Linked DNA regions of Homo sapiens. The protein of the gene in region 2 purifies or fractionates together with the protein of the main gene of each other region. This does not show direct contact. Each region holds a gene or a part of one and is shown on either strand. Other genes may lie near its edges.

Region 1 (3,011 bases), on a different chromosome or scaffold from region 2:
CCCTAACTTCTTGCAAACCCTTTAAAGCATGGACTTGGGAAATGTCAGTGACCACCTGCCTTCTCTGACCAGGTTAAAAAGGCTAGCCAATGCTTGTGTAAAAAAAAGAACACCACATATTGTTGTATTATATGCAATTGGAAATGTTCAGTTATCGCACTTTGGTATCCTTTTCAGAAAAAAAAAAAATCTCAAAACTTATAAACATAAGCATGGCATTTTACATTGTACCAACTGAGTAACAGTAAATAGATGAGGTGTGACCACTATAACTTCTTGACCAACTTTCTATCTTGAAACTACACACATCCAACCCTACCAGCTACCATTCTAATTCTACAGGATATTTTCCAGTGAGACAAGCTGTACAATGACCACTCTTTTCAAAACATTCCAGACCATTTCCATTTTCTTGGATCATAATATCGTGCTTTTTCTCTTTCTGTTTTTTAAACTTTATCCCTTCTTGTACAGATGAAACCAGTCCTTCTACTGACAGATACACAACACTGTTTGCTCCTAAAGAAAGAGGGAAAAATAAAAATGTAATAAGAATTCCTTTAGAAAGGAAGAAACGCGTCAACAGAGAATAGTTACAAACAGAATAATTTAAGCTAGGATAAATTTCTCCTTTAGCCTTTCTTTAAAAAAAAAAAAAAGGAAAAAAAATCAATAAAACTCAGTTCCTTTATTTTTAAAAATTTTAATTGGAATCTAGGGGATAACATAATTTAAAACAGCAGAGGAGGCTTCAAGTCTAGAATGGAATTAGAGGGCTTTGGGAGTAATTTTCTTAATTGAAAAAATGGAATTTAAAGTCAGGAAGATCTAGGCTCAAAGTTAAGCTCAAGTTCACTCAGTTTTCCTAAGTCTATTTTTTCATCTATATAAGATGGTGGAAACATTGCCTAAATGTAGAGTTTTTATGATAATATAGATAATATAGGCAGCATAGTTTCTGGCAAAGTGTGAGTGCTTATAACATGTATGACACCCATCAGGGTGATATTTAAAAATATTTAACCAGTGAGGCATATGCATGACAGGTTAAAAGAAACACCAGCCACAAACAGATGGTGTGGAGGTACCAAGGCACAATGACTAAATATCATGTGTTATTTCCACAGTTTATACATCACCTGATTTTGAAAGGAAGATGTCTTACCCAGGATAACTTAGATCTCGAAGTCTCCTTATCTCATTATTGAATATGAACCTACACAAACTTTTTACCTTGTGATTTGTATCCACATCCAAATTACTCTGTTAGAATCTGATTAAATTATTTTTGTTTTTCTTGGGATCTGACTTTTGGGAGGCTTTAAGTGATTATGATTGCACTTCCCTCCACCTGGAAACCACCTCTTCCTTCTCTGATCTCACCTTGGCTTAGCTCTCCAACACAAGACTCTGTGGTGTCTGCCCATGCCCACTACTCTCACTGTTGAGAATAGTATTCAATATCTGTTTAACATATATAACTACTTTTAACAAACACTGAATACTCCTTTTTACTAAAGGTGTAAAGACTGTCAAGCTTTGGATTTTCTCTGTTAATAATCAAAGTTTATAGAAATTTTAATACTTACCTAGATATTCTGCAAGGTGATCAAATTCTGGTTTATTGGCAATGAGCTCTTCTTTTGTAGGAATGTTTATTCCCATGAAGCATGGATATTTAATTGGTGGTGAAGCTACTCGAATGTGTACCTTGGAAAGAAATCATTGCACACAAGGTTTTTAAGACTATGCAAAATTCTTTCATTGTGCAAATACAATACAAAATTGTTTTGCAGAATATTCAGTAACAACATATGGGTAATAAATTATTCTTTCTACAAAGCTGCTTCTTGGTTTTTTTTTTCTTTCACCTAATCATGAGGAAGTTTCTTTGTCTAGATATCCTACTTCTCATTTGATGTCTTTACATTCCTAGAGCCACTTTTCTCTTGTAATACCAGGTACTTCTGCTTATCCCTTATCTTACCATTTTAAAAAGAAAAATACAATTTACCAGGTTATAACAAAAACCTTACTACTACAACAGAGTTGTTTTTGTCTGTTATTGTTTTTTTTGCCTTTCATCAGGTACGTTTACATGGCTATACTCAGTGTCCACATTTCCTTTTTAAACTTTATTAGAATAGATTTTCCCATTTTTGCTACGCAGTCTTCTTAGTATTTAATGGCTGCATCATATTTCATCACACTGATATATCAATTTACTAAATTATATTCACCAACAGGGAGATATGCCATTTCCAGGTTCTTTGACTTTATTCTTTTTCACTATTGCAATAAATGATGAAATTATGTTAAACTCTTGTATCTATTACATAATTTCCACAGAATTCCAGAGTAAGATGATCATAATCCTAAACACAGGTATAAAAAAGGCTGGAAAATCATAATCCCAATTATCTTGGAAACTTTCTAAATAAACTGGCATGCTGCTTTTCATCCCACTTTCTTCTACAGTGAGATTTTATTTTTGATTTTTCAGAGATGGGGTATATGTTGCCCAGGCTGAGACTTTATTTTTAAATTTACATAACTATTAGTTGTAAATGGCATCTCACTTCTGTAGTATGAGCTACTGAAATAGAATAAGCTTTGAAATCTTAAAATAACTTAATATATCTATATAAAAACATGTACACAATAAATATATACATTTGTCAATTTAAAAAATAAAAATTAAAAAAAAATTTTTTTCAAGACATAAAGTGAGGCCGGGTATGGTGGCTCACACCTGTAATCAAGCACTTTGGGAGGCTGAGGCAGGCAGATGGCCTGAGCTCAGGAGTTTGAGATCAGCATGGGCAACATGGTGAAACCCTGCCTCTACTAAAAATACGAAAAATCAGCCGGGCATGGTGGTGTGTGCCTATGGTCCCAGCTATTTGGGAGGCTGAAGTGGGAGGATCTCTTGAGCCCAGGAGGTGGAGGTTGCAGTAAGCTGAGATCGAACCACTGCATTCCAACCAGGTGACACAGTGAGTCCCAGTATC
Region 2 (4,134 bases):
ATCAGTTATGGTATCTCCATAAGACAGAATGCTATGCAACCTTTAAAATATATTAGATAGCTCTAGACACACTAATATTAAAAGTGTCCAATAACATTTAAAACTATACTCATACGTTAAAATATAAATGTATATATGTACTTTTGCATATAGTATACATGCATAGCCAGTGCTTGAGAAGAAATGTGTACAGAAGGCTGAAAGGAGAGAACTTTAGTCTTCTTGTTTATGGCCTCCATAGTTAGAATATTTTATAACACAAATATTTTGATATTATAATTTTAAAATAAAAACACAGAATAGCCAGACATACAATGCAAGCATTCAATACCAGGTAAGGTTTTTCACTGTAATTGACTTAACAGAAAATTTTCAAGCTAGATGTGCATAATAATAAAAATCTGACCTTGCCTTCATGTGATTCAGCCCCAGTCCATTACCCTGTTTAGGACTGAGAAATGCAAGACTCTGGCTAGAGTTCCTTCTTCCATCTCCCTTCAATGTTTACTTTGTTCTGGTCCCTACAGAGTCCCACTATACCACAACTGATACTAAGTAATTAGTAAGGCCCTCCTCTTTTATTTTTAATAAAGAAGATTTTAGAAAGCATCAGTTATTTAATAAGTTGGCCTAGTTTATGTTCAAATAGCAAGTACTCAGAACAGCTGCTGATGTTTGAAATTAACACAAGAAAAAGTAAAAAACCTCATTTTAAGATCTTACTTACCTGTCCATAATTAGTCCATGAGGAATAAACACCCTTTCCAAATCCTCAGCATAATGATTAGGTATGCAAAATAAATCAAGGTCATAACCTGGTTCATCATCACTAATCTGAAAAAGAAATATAGCTGTTTCAATGAGAGCATTACAGGATACAAACATTTGATTGGATTAAGATGTTAAAAAATAACCTTAGTCTATCAGAGAAATTTAGGTGTAAGATGATATTAGTAACTGTTAACTTTGTAGGTATGATAATGAATTATGTAAGAAAACAACAGGCCGGGCGGGTTGGTTCACACGTGTAATCCCAGCACTTTGGGAGGCTGAGGCAGGCAGACTGCCTGAGCTCAGGAGTTCGAGACCAGCCTGGGCAACACGGTGAAATCCCGTCTCTACTAAAAATACAAAAAAATTAGCCGGGTGTGGTGACACATGCCTGTAGTCCCAGCTACTTGGGAGGCTGAGGCAGGAGAATCACTTGAACCTGGGAGGTGAAGGTTGCAGTGAGCCAAGAATGCGCCACTTCACTCCAGCCTGGGAAACAGAGCAAGACTCTGTCTCAAAAAAAACAAAACAAACAAACAAAAAAACAGGCTGGGCGCGGTGGCTCACGCCTGTAATCCCAGCACTTTGGGAGGCCGAGGCGGGTGGATCACCTGAGGTCAGGAGTTCCAGACCAGCCTTGTCAACATGGTGAAACCTCCCCCCGCCGTCTCTACTAAAAATACAAAAATTAGCCAGGCGTGGTGGCAGGAGCCTGTAATCCCAGCTACTTGGGAGGCTGAGGCAGGAGAATCGCTTGTACCCAGAAGGCAGAGGTTGCACTGAGCTGAGATGGCACCATTGCACTCCAGCCTGGGGGACAAGAGCGAGATTTCGTCTTTAAAAAACAAAAAACAAAACAAAAAACCATGTAACTATATGTCTTAGTCATCTTAGTCAAGAATGTAGAAGTAAAGTGATAAGATATGGAATTTCCTTTAGGTCACAAAGAGAAAAAGAAAAATTTTAAAGAGCTAAGACAAACGCAGCAAAATCTTTATATTTAATAATATTCTAAACATGGGTGATGAACATACGGGTATTCATTATACTATTCTCTCCACTTTTGAGTATGTTTGAAAATTTAGTAAAACAAGTTTTAACACACTGTAGTCTAACAAGATAAAATATCACACTGAACAGGAAAAACTGGCATGGTGTGGTGGCTCACACTTGTAATCCCAGTGCTTTGGGAGGCTGAGACAGGAGAGTTGCTTGAGGCCAGGAGTTCAAGACCGACATGGGGAATGTAGCAAGACCCCGTCCCTACAAAAAACTTTGTAAAAATTTGCCAGGTATGGTGGTGCATACCTGTAGTCCCAGCTACTCGGGAGGCGGAGGCAGAAGGAATCACTTGAGCCCAGGAGTTTGAGGCTGCAGTGAGCTACGATCATACCACAGCACTCCAGCGTGGACAACAGAGTAAGACCCTATCTCAAAAACAAAACAAAACAAAACAAACAAAAAAAACCACAAGAAAAACTGCTGGCTGATGCAGCGGCTCATGCCTGTAATCCCAGTATTTTGGGAGGCCCAGGTGGGCGTATCACCTGAGGTCAGGAGTTAGAGACCAGCCTGGCCAACATGGTGAAACCCCATCTCTACTAAAAATACAAAATTAGCCAGGCATGTGGCACGCGCCTGTAGTCCCAGTTACTGGGGAGGCTGAAGCAGGAGGATCACCTGAGCCCGGGAGGTGGAGGTTGCAGTGAGCCGAGATCACACCACTGCACTCCAGCCTGGGTGACACAGCAATACCCTACCTCAAAATAAAAAAGAAAAAGAAAAGAAAAGTTGCTGTCCCCGCTACCCCAATCCCAAATCCAAACAGCCTCTCTCATCTCACAGTAAGGGGGAAAAATCACCCAAAAAAGCTAAGTGATCTTTTGAAAACCCAAACTCTTAGAAGTCTAAGATTATTATAGTCAACTCATGAAGTGTCATCATAAAAGATACTCTAATATTATTTAAGTAGAACCACATATTGGTTGTCTTGGTATGTCTAGCCCCTGGCATACAAAATATTTAATAACACTGATATGGTACCTGTGATGTGAAAATGTACTATGAGTACAGCTTTATAAATACTATATATGTACCTATATACAGAAAAAAATACAACAAAATCATAAAAGCACTTATCTTTGAAAGAGGAGTTACAGCAATTTTATTTAGTTCTTTATTGCTTTGCTATATATTCTAAATTTTTTTCAATGAATATATATCACTTTTAAAAAAATTCAATGGTCTTTCTTATAAATTATCTTTGGCAGCATGCGTTTTTATATATACATATAAAATGTATGGGAAATTTTTAAAGGATACATTAAATTAAAGCAAAATATACAAACAAAAAATCAGAATACAAAAAGATAAAAAGATTGGGAAGGGAGGGAGGGAGTAAGGAGGAAGGGTGGGTGGGTATAGAGAAATATACCAAATAATGGTAAGAAGTGGGGTCTTGACACTTTCTACACTTTTTTTAAATAAAAAAAATTTTTTTCTCTCTCTTTTTTTTTTTTAGAGACGAAGTCTCGCTATGTTGCCCAGGCTGGTCTTGAACTCCTGGGATCAAGAGATCCTCCTGCCTCAGCCTCCCAAGGTGCTTGGATTACAGGTGTGAGCCACCACGCCTGGTCACTTTCTACACTTTAATATATATATTTTTTCATTTTCAATGTCATTTTTATTAGTTAATTTATAATACCCATTCACCATTATATTCAAAGTCTATTTGAAGAAATAAACCAGAAAGAATGAAATACTCTAGCTCACATGCTATTCAATACTAAATTACCTTTCAAATCACATTCAAGAAGCTGATGATTTAAGCTTTGGCGGTTTCCAATAAATATTGGTCAAACCATAATTAAATCTCAATATATCAGTTAGTACCTATTGAGCATCTCCTTTTACAACCTAAGCATTGTATTAGGTGCTTAAATACAAGCAGCTTGACTTTTAATACATTTAAAAATACATATTTAAGACTTAAAATCTTATTTATGGAATTCAGTTATATTTTGAGGTTTCCAGTGCTGAGAAATTTGAGGTTTGTGCTGTCTTTCAGTCCCCAAAGCTCAGTTCTGAGTTCTCAGACTTTGGTGGAACTTCATGTATTGTCAGGTTGGCCCGTAATACCTGTGGGACAACTTCAGCCCCTGTGCACATGGCCAGGAGGCTGGTTGCAAACATTTTCAGGTAGGTGGACCAGGACATGCCCCTGGTCATGGCCAGGTGGAGGCATAGTGCTATACAGCAGGCAGAAGTCAATATTGATTTGTTTTTAAAGAAACATGTACTACTTTCATAAGCAGAAAAAATTTCTATTCTTGGGGGAAAAGATTATGCCAGATCCTCTAGGAT
Region 3 (4,134 bases), on a different chromosome or scaffold from region 2:
ACTAAAAATACGAAAAGTAGCCAGGCATGGTGGCAGGCGTCTGTACTCCCAGCTACTCGGGAGGCTGAGACAGAATTGCTTGAACCCGGGAGGCGGAGGTTGCAGCGAGCTGAGATCACGCCACTGCACTCCAGCCTGGGCAACAGAGCAAGATTCTGTCAAAAAAAAAAAAAATTCTTTCCTTTCCATAGTAAATTATGTAGAAGACATTTTCCCTAAGCAGCACCTGGAGGAGGGGAAGCTCTGACAAAATCCTGGCCCAGATGGAACCACTAACTGCACCAGCCTGAGCCCCCTCTTTCCTACGCTCCTTTAAGAGAACTTCCACCAAGACAAGAAAATCCTGTTGAGAGAAGAGCTGGACTCCAACAGTGAACTATTCTCCTAAGGCAGAATCCTGCAAACACACGCAAATCCACACTCATCCTTTTGCTGGTGAAGAGAGAGCACTAATGGCAGAATGTACATACCCAGGATCTAGAGTCAGATGGCCTGGGTTCACACCCCAGCCAGGCCACTTCCTAAAATATGACCTCGGCTTCCTCACTTGCAAAATGGGAATCATGATCATAACACTGGCTACCTACTAGGGTAGTTGGGAGGATTAAACGGTCATACACATAAAGCATCACCATTCTGCATCATAGTGGCCCTAGAAAGATAAATCTACAAACTCCAGCTCTTCCCTTGTGTCTGCTCCTGCTGAGGCTCTGAGAACTCACAATAACAATAACAACATAGCAGCTAATATTTATCAATCACCAAGTGCCAGGTACTCAGTGCAAAATTTAAAATTTTTATATATATACACAGATTTATTTATATGTATGTTAATCTTCACAGCAACCCAGTGAAAGGGGTACTATTATTACTTCTAGAACCTACCACACAGACATGTTAAGTGACTTGCCTAAGGTCACACAGCTAGTAAATACTAGACTCTCTTAGGCAATTGTAAATCTTAAGAGCCATGAAGATTTTCTCAAAATACCCAAGTTTGGGAGTTATAGGATCCTGAGGCAGGGCAACCCTGCTCTTCCTGAAGTGCTGCAACGCAGCCCCCAGTCAGCGAATGAGAGCCAGGCTAAAAGGACCCCTTCAGATTAGGCTAAAATACAGAAAGATGTTGGCCGGTTGTGGTGGCTCATGCCTGTAATCCCAACGCTTTAGAAGGCCAAAGCCGGCGGATAACCTGAGGTCAGGAGTTCAAGAGCAGCCTGACCAACATGGTGAAACTCCATCTCTACTAAAAATACAAAAATTAGCTGGGCGTAGTGGCACGCACCTGTAATCCCAGCTACTCGGGAGGCTGAGGCAGGAGAATCGCTTGAACCTGGGAGGTGGAGGTTGCAGTGAGCCGAGATCATGCCACTGCACTCCAGGCTGGCAACAGAGCGAGACTCCGTCTCAAAAAACAACAACAACAAAACCCAGAAAGGTATTTAAGCCAGTATGTTCTGTCAGGCAGCCAGCTTCCCGCAGGCCCGACAGAGAAAGAAATGAAGGCAGGGGAGGCCCAGCTTTTGAAAGTTCTTCTCCAAAGCTGCACTGGCTGTTTGAGATGCAGGCCACAGCACCTCATGTATAGAGAGCTTTTGGGTTAATGGTGAACCACCGGATCCTGGATTACCAAGACCAAACAAAAAACAACATCCCCAGAAAAGAACAAGAGGAAAAGCTGATCAAATGGTAAAGAGATGGTGCAGAGGGAGAGGTGAGCTGGGCAGAGAATCTGATAGGATATCTGGGGCATTTGATCACCGGCTCCTGGAAACATGCTTTACTTTATTTTACTTATTATTTGTTTGTTTGTTTGCTTATTTATTTATTTATTTTGAGATGGAGTCTCCCTCTGTCACCCAGGCTGGAGTGCAATGGTGCCATCTCGGCTCACTGCAATCTCCACCTCCCCGGTTCAAGAGATTCTCCTGCCTCAGCCTCCTTAGTAGCTGGGATTATAGGCATGTGCCACCACGCCTGGATAATTTTGTATTTTTGGTAAAGACAGGGTTTCACCATGTTGGTCAGGCTAGTCTCTAGCTCCTGACCTCAAGTGGTCCATCCACCTCAGCCTCCCAAATTGCTAAGATTACAGGTGTGAGCCACCGCGCCCAGGCTTACATGTTTTATTTTAAAATGTAACCTCCGCTTTGATGAAAAATAGTGAGACCCCTCCCTGGGTCCACAAGACTGACTCCCAGAGTTACCTGAAACATGGAGGCGTGTTGTACAAGGAGCTGTTTCCAGCCTGCACCTTGTATTCCAGGACCGAGGGGCACTCTCGGAGGGCAAACCCCAGCAGGTCATCACGGACAATCACCACGGTGACCCCAGCAGAGCCAACATTCTTCTGGGCACCAGCAAAAATCACACCAAACTTAAAAAGAGAAAGACATGCTGCTTAAGAAGGATTTGGCCATTTTTCATACATGTATGCAAACTTCCCAACTCTTCCCGAAGCACAATTTTTTTAAGGAAATGACTCTATCCTGTGTAGGGAGCAGTTCATGCTCTAAAGCAATCTCCATGTGGACAGCAAACCCATACTCAGAGTTCCAAAGCCTGAGGATGATCCGTCAGCCTGGTCCTCACCTGGATGGGGCTAACCCAAGCCCATCACTGCAAAGTCCTGGCACATATTCACATTCGCTCTGCACACCTCCTTTCTACCCCCAAAGTAGAAAGGAGTCTTTAACGTGGGGCCTCTAACTCTCCCTGGTTACCAAGAGAAGAAACATTTTTTTTTTCTTTTGAGACGGAGTCTTGCTCTGGCACCCAGGCTGGAGTGCAGTGGCGCAATCTCGGCTCACTGCAACCTCTGCCTCCCGGGTTCAAGCAATTTTCCTGCCTCAGCCTGCCGAGTAGCTGGGATTACAGCGTGTGCCACCATGCCCAGTGAATTTTTGTATTTTTAGTAAAGACGGGGTTTCACCATGTTGGCCAGGCTGGTCTTGAACTCCTGATCTCATGATCCACCCTCCTCGGCCTCCCAAAGTGCTGGGATTACAGGCCTGAGCCACTGCGCCTGGCCAAAACAGATTTTTTAATCTATTTACATTTGTATAAAAGAACAGTCAGAAGGTGCTGAGAAAGGGACTGTTATGACAAAGAGAAGGGATGGGACAAGCTGCCTGAGGGAGAAGAAATTATAGAAAACAGAGGCTTAAAGGTACTTTAGGTAATTCTGTTGTGCAAGATACAGAACCCTCTCCCATGCCTCTCTCCATGAAACCCTTAGGAAAATTGAGCGTTGGCAGGAAGTTGGGGGTGGGGGAAAGTAATTTATAGTTATTTAAAATTGCCAGTGCCTGGTGATAATAAAAAGCAGACCATAAACCAAATACAGTATATCTAAACAATTATTATTCAGCCTTTAAAAAGAAAGGAAGCTCTGACACACAGTACAACATGGACGAACCTTGAAGACATTCTGCTAAGTGCAATAGAACCTTGAAGACATTCTGCTAAGTGCAATAAGCCAGACACAAAAGGACAAATAGTACATGATTCACTTCTAGGAGATACCTAGAGTAGTCAAATTCACAGAGACAGAAACTAGAATGGAGGCTGCCAGGGGCTGGACGGTGGGGAGAGAGGGAGTTAGTGTTTAATGTACAGATTTCATCTGAGAAGATGTAAAAGTTCTGGAGATGGATGGTGGTGATGCCTGCACAACAATGTGAATGCTCTCAATGCCACTGACCAGTATATTTAAAAATGGTTAAAATGGTATATTTTATATTAAATGGTAAAATTTGTTATATTTTATCCCAATTAAAAAGGCAGAATACCACTCAGTCAGTTCAACTGTTGTTCTTAGATTCTCTACCCGCATCGCACCCTGGGGCATGTACCTACAGCGCCAGTCCCACTGCCCTGCCTTGGCAAGCCACTCATAAAACGGTATCCTGTTGATGCTTTTGGAGGTGGGTACCAGGCAAGGGGAAGCTCCCTCACATAGGTCCCCTGGGCTCGGGATAATCTGCATCTGCTCTTGAAGACAAGTCTCTCCCCGTCTGTTGACCAAACACGTTTCTAAGAACCACTCTCAAAAGCAGGTAGTTCCCCAAGGACTCGAGTGGGACCCTGTGAGGCAAACATCACCACGAGGCTGGGAACAGCAGGACTCAGGCA
Region 4 (4,134 bases), on a different chromosome or scaffold from region 2:
AATGCAAATCAAAACCACAATGAGATACCATCTCACACCAGTTAGAATGGTGATCATTAAAATGTCAGGAAACAACAGGTGCTGGAGAGGATGTGGAGAAATAGGAACACTTTTACACTGCTGGTGGGAAGGTGAACTAGTTCAACCATTGTGGAAGACAGTGTGGCGATTTCTCATGGATCTAGAACTAGAAATACCATTTGACCCAGCCATCCCATTACTGGGTATATACCCAAAGGATTATAAATCATGCTGCTATAAAGGCACATGCACACGTATGTTTATTGCGGCACTATTCACAATAGCAAAGACTTGGAACCAACCCAAATGTCCATCAATGATAGACTGGATTAAGAAAATGTGGCACATATACACCATGGAATACTACGCAGCCATAAAAAGGGATTAGTTCCTGTCCTTTGTAGGGACATGGATGAAGCTGGAAACCATCATTCTCAGCAAAGTATCCCAAGAACAAAAAACCAAACTCCGCATGTTCTGACTCATAGGTGGGAACTGAACAATGAGAACACTTGGACATAGGAAGGGGAACATCACACACCAGGGCCTCTTGTGGGGTTGGGGGAGTGGGGAGGGAAAGCATCAGGAGATATACCCAATGTAAATGACGAGTTAATGGGTGCAGCACACCAACATGGCACATGTACACATATGTAACAAACCTGCACGTTGTGCACATGTACCCTAGAACTTAAAAGTACAATTAAAAAAAAAAAAAAGAAAATGTGGTATATATACACAACAGAATACCATTTAGCCTTAAAAGAGAACGCAACTCTGTCAATTGCCACAACATGGGTGAACCTGGACATTATGTTAAGTGAAATAAACCAGCCATGGAAAGACAAATACTGCATGATCTCACCTATATGTGGAATCTAACTAAGTCAAACTCATAGAAGTAAAGAGTAGAAAGGTTACCAGGGGCTGGGGTTTGGGGAGACGTTGATCAAAGCACAAAATTTCAGTTAGACAGGAGGAATAAGTTTTTGAGATTATACTGCATGGTGATTATAGCTAATGACAACGTATTATGTATTTCAAAATTGTTAAAGTAAAAATCAAATGTTCTCACCACTAAAGATGATATGTGGGGTAATATGTTAATTAGCTTTGCTAATCATTGTACAATGCATACATATATCAAAATATAATGTTATACCTCATATATACATTTATCATTTGTCAATTAAAATTAAAAAACAAAAACTCACAATGAAAAGCTTAACACAGGCTGGGTGCAGTGGCTCACGCCTGTAATCCCAGCACTTTGCGCTTTGGGAGGCGGAGGCGGGTGATCTCCTGATTCAAGACCAGCCTGACCAATATGACGAAACTCCATCTCTACTAAAAATACAAAAATTAGCTGGGCATTGTGGCATGTGCCTGTAGTCCCAGCTACTCGGGAGGCTAAGACAGAAGCATTGCTTGAACCTGGGAGGCGGAGGTTTCAGTGAGCTGAGTTCATGCCACTGCACTCCAGCCTGGGAGACAGAGTGAGGCTCCGTCTCCAAAAAAAAAAAAAAAAAAAAAAAAAAAGCAAGCGAGTCTGTGGCACTGCCCTCCCAGTTGCCCTGCCGGTTCCCACGCGTCGTCCATTTGAGCTGAAAATGACCAGCTACAATAGCCTAAAGCATTTTGTATGACTGCTTACCTGTCAATGAACTGATCAATAATGACAATATCGCCGGGCTGAATCTCCTCCCTCAAGGAGCCACAAGCTGTGGTCACTATGACATGTGTACAGCCCTCTTCCTTCAAAGCCCAGATGTTCGCCTGGTAGTTGACCTTTGAAGGCATGATGGTGTGCTGCCTTCCATGCCTATGGAAGGAGAGAAGAAATTGTTAACCCGTGATGAGTACACCACCAACTGTTTTCTCCTAGAGTCTAGAAAAAATTAAGTGATTCTCTAGCAATGACCACAGACTAACACAGGGGGTCTCCTAGAACCCAGTCCAGTGAGCAACTAAAACTAAAATTTAGGTTCACTGGATTCTGAGAAGCCACTCCTGTTTCAAATATGTAGAGTGGCAGACAGACCCTAGTGAGGACCCCACTGTCATGCTCTGTATAAAGGATCAGTGAACCTGGGACTTGCATTCAGCCAATAGAAAAATGGTAAACGTGCTATAAGTCACTCCCACGATTAGGCTCTACCTTGCAAGCATGCATAGGAGATTCTCCTGCCGGACTCCTGCATGCTTGCAAGGTACAGCTTAACCATGGAGGTGACTTCTAGCACCTTTGCCATATCCTAATAGCAAGAAGCAAGCTGCAGTCAAGTGAACAGCCTGTGGAGCAGGCCACACGGCAGGGAATGTGAACCACCTCTAGGAGCCAAAGGCCTCCGCCCTGTAACTTCTAGGGAGTGAATTCTCCTACAACTACACGAGCTTGAACAAGGACCTCAAGCTCCAGATGGGGACTCAGTCCTTGAATATGCCTTGTGGGGCCTTGTGCAACCCCAAGCAGAGGACTGGCTAAGCTGTGCCAGACTTCTGACCAACAGGAACTAGGAGATGATGTGTGCTATTTTAAGCTGCTAAATTTGTGGTAATTTGTTACACAACAGTAGAGAACTCATACATATATCTTGACTAACTTCTAACAATGGGATAAAAATGACTTGGCCTCCTCTGTAATATGGAGCAGCACCAGCCTCCTTAAGGAAACAACAGCACAGACACAAGTAACCCACTTCAGAAGCCCTAAGCCTACTTCCCACAGACATATAACTACTACCAGCAAGAGGTCATTAATGATGCATTGTTTTTCTTTATCTTTATAAGAAGGGGGAAAAAAATGAACAAAACATTTCTTCTTGCAGTTAGAACTAAAACCAGAGCTTTGATTTTAGTCATCTGATCTACTTTCCCAATGTAAGGGGCAAGAGCATGAGATCTTTGATCTCCTAAGTCAATATAACTTAACCAAAAATAAAACATTGTAAATAAAGGTTACTAAGATGTTCTGATTCTGCCAACATATAAAAGCTCAGACCTGTATCTTTACTCTTTCCAGAATTTAAGTTAAATTTAAATTATCCTTTAGTAGTAACATCCAAAAAGCTTAAAATACCATACCTTGCAAGGAGGACGCAATCAACATTTTTTATCTTCCCCAAAATTAAGGCATCAGATGGCTGCATGCAATGAAAAAATGACATTTAACTCAGTGATTTAAAAACAGGTATGTAAATTATAATTGTTCAACCACAACAGGACTCATGGAATCTGAAGAGTCTGAGGATACAACTTAGAGAAGAGGCAAGATCTGATTATCAATATAATCATTTAATCAATTACTTATTGATCCCTCTGCAGGCATAGATTCACAGGACTCAAGGTTACCATGGGCACCTGTGTAGGTACCATTTAGTCAGATCTATTTGTAACGAGTACCCCAGGGAACTCTGATGGTAGACTGGTCAAATTTAGATGTGTCAAGGTTATTGGGCAGGTTTGAGAACAGGTGTGAAGGTGAAAGGCAGAAAGGATAACAAGCCACCATCATGACACTAAGAATTCAGCACTGGAAATGTCTGCTTGTGTTAACCAGGTCTAAGATGATCATGGAAATGACTTGAGGTAACAAAGGCTGGAAAGACCCTTAGAACCGAGGGGTTTAAGAAAATGAACCAGGATGACTGCAGGACTGGGAGCACACAAGGTCAACCTAAGAATTTAGCTGAAAAGGAGGGTTTGGTTGGGACAGCCAGATAGAGAGATCTTACAGATGGACCAGAGGACGTAGCAATATGGAATTAGGAGAATGCAGACACCCTCACCCCGGCCTAGGCTGAGTGACATGGGCTTGGAGAACAAGCAACCTCTCCTATAAAAGGAGGAGCATTTTATTTCTAGCTCAGTTACACATTCAACTAACATCAGGTATGTTCTAATTCCCCAAAACAATTCTTTCCACTCAAATGCCGCTTCGTAACAATAATTCATCCTATTAGTCATCAGCCTGTCCCCTAATTAGTGTGGTGTGACCTATTGGCCACAAATTAGAAGATTTGAATGTAGATTTGAAAAGTACAGTCTGAAATGAGTCTGTGGTCTGAAATGAGTATCTGATTTCCAGCAACAGAATGAGAAGTGATTTACATA

The links.
Region 1: the proteins of HPRT1 (region 2) and PPAT fractionate together in Homo sapiens (co-fractionation; one large-scale study listed by BioGRID). This does not show direct contact.
Region 3: the proteins of HPRT1 (region 2) and PSAT1 fractionate together in Homo sapiens (co-fractionation; one large-scale study listed by BioGRID). This does not show direct contact.
Region 4: the proteins of HPRT1 (region 2) and MTAP fractionate together in Homo sapiens (co-fractionation; one large-scale study listed by BioGRID). This does not show direct contact.

Annotation. Positions count from the first base shown.
Region 1 is NC_000004.12:56,395,030-56,398,040, forward strand, and holds part of PPAT (amidophosphoribosyltransferase), read right to left. Parts: intron 1,711-3,011; coding exon 1,590-1,710; intron 520-1,589; coding exon 323-519; 3' UTR 1-322. UniProt on the Homo sapiens protein: Catalyzes the formation of phosphoribosylamine from phosphoribosylpyrophosphate (PRPP) and glutamine.
Region 2 is NC_000023.11:134,470,059-134,474,192, reverse strand, and holds part of HPRT1 (hypoxanthine-guanine phosphoribosyltransferase), read right to left. Parts: intron 835-4,134; coding exon 728-834; intron 1-727. UniProt on the Homo sapiens protein: Converts guanine to guanosine monophosphate, and hypoxanthine to inosine monophosphate. Transfers the 5-phosphoribosyl group from 5-phosphoribosylpyrophosphate onto the purine.
Region 3 is NC_000009.12:78,306,657-78,310,790, reverse strand, and holds part of PSAT1 (phosphoserine aminotransferase), read right to left. Parts: intron 2,378-4,134; coding exon 2,208-2,377; intron 1-2,207. UniProt on the Homo sapiens protein: Involved in L-serine biosynthesis via the phosphorylated pathway, a three-step pathway converting the glycolytic intermediate 3-phospho-D-glycerate into L-serine.
Region 4 is NC_000009.12:21,815,744-21,819,877, reverse strand, and holds part of MTAP (S-methyl-5'-thioadenosine phosphorylase), read right to left. Parts: intron 3,165-4,134; coding exon 3,106-3,164; intron 1,844-3,105; coding exon 1,676-1,843; intron 1-1,675. UniProt on the Homo sapiens protein: Catalyzes the reversible phosphorylation of S-methyl-5'-thioadenosine (MTA) to adenine and 5-methylthioribose-1-phosphate. Involved in the breakdown of MTA, a major by-product of polyamine biosynthesis.